2 separate regions of the Homo sapiens genome follow, and region 2 is linked to region 1. Evidence: fine-mapped expression QTL. A gene starts in region 1. The other region holds a variant in brackets. All regions are shown on one strand. Distances are between the middles of the regions. Region 1 holds the start of RGS17 (regulator of G protein signaling 17). Region 2 overlaps RGS17 (regulator of G protein signaling 17).

Region 1 (2,911 bases):
TCACTTCCACCACGTGAAGACACAGCAAGGAGTCAGCAGTTCATGAGCTCGGAATTGGGCCCTCACCAAATAAGGTATCTGCCTACATCTTGATCTTGGACTTCCCAGTCTCCAGAACTGTAAGAAATCAGTTTCTGTTGTTTATAAGCCATCCAGTCTATGGTATTTTGTTATAGCAGCCTGGAAGACAAAGACAAATACTTCTGTGAAATCCAACAAAAATGAAGACACTTTGAAGAGCACTAGTACTCAAAGCCATGGGAGGCCCTGGAGGAGGCCCTGAGACATATTTAACCCAAGTACCCGTGAGTCTATGAGGATGGAGGCACAGGAGAGTTCAGTAGGCTGAAATAACACAACGCTTGCTTACATGAACACACAAGGAAGGGGAACTCACACAGATTTACAAGTAATCTGTTTTAATTAGGTGTAAGAAAAAAAAGCCCATTCACTCCTGCAGGAACTCCCTCCTCTTCCCACAGATGTGGTATCTGAAGAGCAAGACACTGCTTCTCCACTTCCTCCGCACAAACACTTTAGTCTAATCATTGGAGATGCAATCTAGCGCTCGGGTTGCATTAAGTATCCCAAGCTCCTTCCCTACCAAGCTGGGCTCCACTTGGGCACAGAACGATTATCAGACCTGGTAACTACCAAGCTGTCCCCTAAGGATGCTCTAGGCCCCAAGCATCAGCACCTCCGTTAATAATTCTCCACTCTTGCCTTGTCATCGGCTTTTCTCACTCAAAACTCTGCTCCAGCGAGTGGTCCGGGCGCCTGAGGCAGCTGGCATGGGCTAGGCCAGAGAGCACCTGCACTGATTCTTAGGAGAAAAGGTCCTCTTTCTGGGCGAGGAAGTCAATAAAGTAAAGGACGCTTCATAAAGTCCTTCGGGAAGCAAAACTTGCTTAACTTCACACTTCCTTGAACCCCCACGCAGGGAATGCTTCCTCCGGGACCCGGAGCAGGCAGGCTGCTGTGCCTGGCAGGCCGGCTCCTGGGTGCAAGGCTCCCGCGCAGCCCAGGACAGCAGCGCGCGGGCTACGGGCGAGTGGAGTTGCAGGGGCCCGGGCGGAGAGCCGCTGTCACCCAGGGAAGCTCTCGGGACTCCGGGCCTCCCGCGAAGCTCCGGACGGGCGTCACCGAAGCCGAGAGTCCCGGCCGAGCCCCTCCGCACGGTGGGCGCCGCGCCCAGGCGAGCGCGCGAGGTCGGGCGGGGCCGGGGGCCGCCCGGGGAGGGGGCGGGGCCGGGACTCTCGCGGCCGCGCGCAGGGGCTGGGAAGCTGCCCCTCCGGCCGCGCCGGGCGAGGGGCTGCGCCGGCCCGCGAGGCGCATGCGCGCTGCCGAGCGGCTCTCGCTCCCTCCCCGCCCACCGCTCCCTCCTCCCCCTCCCCCTCCTCTGCATCCTCGCCGCTCTCCCTCTCTCCTCGCCCGCTGGGTGCTGAAGTTGGGCGGATGGCAGCAAACCGGCTCCGCTAGAGGACCGAGCCGCCCAGCCCCGCTCCCCCGGACCCATCGGCGCGCTGCCCACACCTCCAGGCGACCGGGTAAGACGCTGCCTCCAAAACAAGCGGTGCTAAGTAAATGACATCAAAATGTCTGCTTTGCACCAATGGATGGATTTTTTTCAAGGTAGGGGGGAGGTGAAGGAAGGAGGGGGCGGAGAGCGCGACCGCCCATGCCCCGGCGGGGGCGGCTGCGCGGCGCTGGGGTCTCAGCTGTGGCCGCGGCGCCCTGAGCGGGAGCGGGGGCCGCGCCGCGGGTCCGGGAAGTTGAATCCCGCGTCGCTGCCTGGACGCGGTCCGCTCGCCGCCCTCAGCTGCTGCAGGGAACCGGGCGAGTGTCCTGCCCGCCGGGGAACGCTCGGCCAGGTCCCAGAGTTCCCGCGGAGAGCGGGGCGCCTGCTGGGGGCGGCCGGGAGGGCCGGGCCAGGGGCGCGGGAGACCCCGCGGGGACGCGAGGTGTTGCGGGTTTTGTGCGGTTGGTTGGGAACGAGGAGAATGTGCCATCAACAGTGTCCAATCGACTGATCACCTTGGGTGCTGTGTTTCCTCCCTTATCTCTCTTTACCTTTGGGAAAATGCACTGCTCAGGTGGGGAAGGTGTTCGAAGAAGAGGTTGCGAAAATGAATCCTTTGACCAGCAGTAAAATACCGGAGGGGTGTGTGTGTGTGTGTGTGTGTGTGTATGTGTATGTATGTATAGGGGGTGGGGGGTCTCTTTTGTTCCTTCCCCTCCCCTTAGTCAAAGGAAAGGGAGTCCTGGCGTGTGCGGCGCGGGGTGGATTCCACAGCCACCGAGGGGGCGAGGACGAGGAACGCCCACCAACCGCGAGTCGCTGCCCGGGTGGGCGCATCGGAGCCTCCTTTGCTGTAGGTGATGGTGGTCTTTCCGTGATCGATGGAATCATAGTTTAATCTCTGCCTCCCCGCCAGCCTCCCTGCTGTCCCTCATCGAGTGCTGCGGCAGAGGCTGGGTGCAGACACGGCCGCTTTCTCCTCTTCTCTCTGCCTCCCTGTCTCCCTGAATAAATGCCGGAGGACTAGGGGATGGCGGAGGGACAGAGCTGGACTCGGAAGCCGCGGGTGGGAGCTGCTCCTCGCGAGCCCGAGGCTGCTGGCACCTTGTCGCGGGCAGCCCGCGCCAGCCTCGGGAGTCCCTGGGCTCCGGGAGAGCGAGCCGGGGTCGCCTGGCCACAAAGATGCCCGCGCGCCCGCCCTGCGTACGGGACCCGCCCTGCGCCCTGAGCCCTGCGCCTCGCCCGGAGCCCGGGACGTCGGTTCACGTGGGAGAACCCCTGTCGCCCGGGGACGATTGACCCTGGCTCCTGGCATAACTCTCCTGACCTCCCCTGACCTTTCCATAAATGCTTCTTTCAAAAGATTCACTATAAGATTTGTCTGGAGAACTT
Region 2 (2,911 bases), 29 kb after region 1:
AGATACATATTTTTCACATTCCAGAAATCAGTACACATTTTACAATCAATGATATCTTTGGTTCAATAAGATGTGGTATCCTCTTCAAAGCTTTTATATGTGAAGCTGGATGGTAATTATGGTTTAGAATCTTCCAGGTCACTCTGACAATTTTAAGATGTTTACCTCTCTTCCTCTATTGGGAAAAAGTAGCTTCTACTGACTAATGATAATGTGGTTTTGTCTTAAAACGTTTAATAGCCATTCTTTTGTGGATTGTCTTTAAAATTTGTTTCCTGATTTTACCCAAAAGAAAAGAAAAGATAAGATACATTTTTAAAGCATTAACAACAGAATAATTTGCTCAATTTATTTCTTCTCAAGAATAGGCTGGCATTTGGTTTTTCGGGGTCTCTCTACCTGTGTGTTTGCCTCAGTTTGGTTTACACTTTCTCTTGCCTTTGGTTTGATCATGGAGGACAAGAATAGACGAATATCCTGGCAACCTCAGCAACTGCACTTTAACATAATATGGTTGCTAGGAGAAAAGGGTGGTAGCAGCACTTGAGAGGAAGTGTGGCTCTGCTGTCCTGGAGGAGCCGGTGACAGAAGCCAACAGCTCACAACAGCATCCTCCACCCCGCCTTCTGCTGAAGGTCACGGAAATATAACTATCGTATCAGTGGTAATAATTATGGCATATATTAAATAAATTATGAACACAAAGGGAATAAAAAGTTACTTCTAGAGATGTCATCATAAAGATATGAAACATCTCAGCCCATTATTCCTTAACCACTGTTTGATTAAACTGAAACTCCTAATGCTGTGTTACAGTCCAGCAGCAGGTCATTACTCAAATGTTAGATCCTCCTGTATATCTTGTGATTTATTGTATTGTCCCTGGTTTTCAGCTAACGAAATTGGAAAAGAATAACTGAAGAGTGCTGTCTGGGTTATTGTAAGAAATTCTACACCCATTAGCCATATTCTTTATTCACTGAGCTATAAAAATTCTGAGATGGATGTAATATACCACCATAATGCTTTTCAATAGCAAAAGCTTGTTGTAGAATTCATTTTATTCATTCAGCAGTTATGGCTGAGAGTCTACCAACTGCCAGCCACTGAGTATCAGGGCAGTGACTAAAAATAAATATTTTAAGATAGAATGCATAAAACAAGACACATACACAATGAACATGGAATGCCTAATGTTTGCATTGTAGTTTTTCTTTATTTGAAGGG[C/G]ACAACAAAATGCTTTGGGCCTAACCCTTATTAGCATTTGAAAGAAAGTAATATTCAGAAAAGAAAAAACATTCGAGGATCTGCCCACATAGGCCAGGCCTCAGTTGACAACTGTGATTAGATTCCTCCACATGTAGAGAGGGGCCTGGAGAAACTCTAAGGAACCATCTCTGTGACATTGACAGCGTTACTCACTCACTATCATGAGAACGGCATGGGGGAAGCTGCCCCCATGATCCAATCACCTCTCACCAGGTCCCTCCCTCAACACGAGATGAGATTTGAGTGGGACACAGAGCCAAACCATATCAGACCCTGTTTGTTTTACTAGTAAAGATATGTATCAATATATAGAGTTCCAGTATAATTGATTGGTTTGTTCCTGCATAGTCCAAATCACATTGGTAAGAATGTGACAACTCTAGAACTAGTCTGTCTGAATTTTCACACAGGTTCACTTACATACATACATGTTATTCTTGTAATTTTACTTGACAGGTAAGATGTGTTAATTTTGCCTGTTTTACCCCTAGAGAAAAACTAGAGACAAAGTGTGTCTCTGTCATGTTCCATTTCCTGTCCTCCTTGCTGGTGTCCCATCAGACTCTCTCAGAGCATCAGCTGGGGTCCAACTGTTAGCACTGAGTTAAGTGATAAGGCTTATCATTTTCCTTAATAGAAGACTGTGCAGAAGCAAAATGCCTTCAAGTACAAAGGCAGATCGTTGCATTGATGGCAGAAATGCCAAACAATGGATTTGATACCTTGTTGGTAGGTACCAATTCATAACCACCTGTATTAGTCCATTTTCACACTGCTATAAAGAACTACCTGAGATTAGGTAATTTATCAAGGAAATGTTTAGTTGACTCACAGTTCTGCAGACTTAACAGGAAGCATGACTTGGGGGTCTCAGGAAAACTTATAATCATGGCAGAAGGTGACGGGGAAACAAGGCATGTCTTCTTTTGGTGGCAGGAGAGAGAGAGAGAGAGTGAAGGGGGAAGTACCACATACTTTCAAACAACCAGATCTTACGAGAACTCACTCACTATCACAAGAACAGCAAGGAGGAAGTCTGCCCCCATGATTCAGTCACCTCCCACCAGACCCCTCCCTCAACATGTGGGGATTACTGTTCAAGATGAGACTTGGGTGGGGACGCAGAGCCAAACCATATCACCACATAACATATGTAGTCACCAACAGTAGCATATACTGTTAACTGCTAAGGCCAACCCTACCAGTCTCCAGTTCCATTTTATGAAGGAATTCTTCCGTATATAGAAATGACATCTGCCATCACTTTTAAATCGGTAGCATACAATATGATCACTAATAGATGCAGTCTTCCCTTGGCCTCCATGGCGGATTGGTTCCATGACCACCCGAGGATAACCACATCCATGTACACTCAAGTGCCCAGTTGGCCCTGCAAAACCCACATATGGGAAAAGTCAGTGCTTCTTATACTATGCAGTTTTGCATCCTGTGAATACTGTACTTGCAGGTCACTTTTGGTTGAAAAAAATAAAACTGTGTATAAGTGGACTCCGCAGTTCAAATCCGTGTTGTTCAAGGGTCAACTGTATAGAGTATTCATAGTCTTTGAAATCTAACACACTAGGTTCAAATTTTTATTCCGTTGCTTGGAACATGGACAAATTACTTAAATTTTTCAAAA

Evidence for each region. PIP is the estimated chance that this variant, and not a neighbour inherited with it, causes the effect.
Region 2: its variant is the best candidate, but not a certain one, in a credible set for the expression of RGS17 in blood mononuclear cells (TOPMed, PIP 0.67).

The regions. Positions count from the first base shown.
Region 1 is chr6:153,129,760-153,132,670 of GRCh38, reverse strand. RGS17 (regulator of G protein signaling 17) reads left to right here and starts at 1,389. Exons shown (of 5, transcript NM_012419.5): 1 at 1,389-1,547. RefSeq lists a silencer at 1,458-1,507.
Region 2 is chr6:153,101,103-153,104,013 of GRCh38, reverse strand. All of the region lies in intron 1 of RGS17 (regulator of G protein signaling 17), which reads left to right. Among named protein-coding and RNA genes, the nearest start is that of RGS17, 29 kb to the left of the region's middle. The variant C/G (reference allele first, on the strand shown) is at 1,228.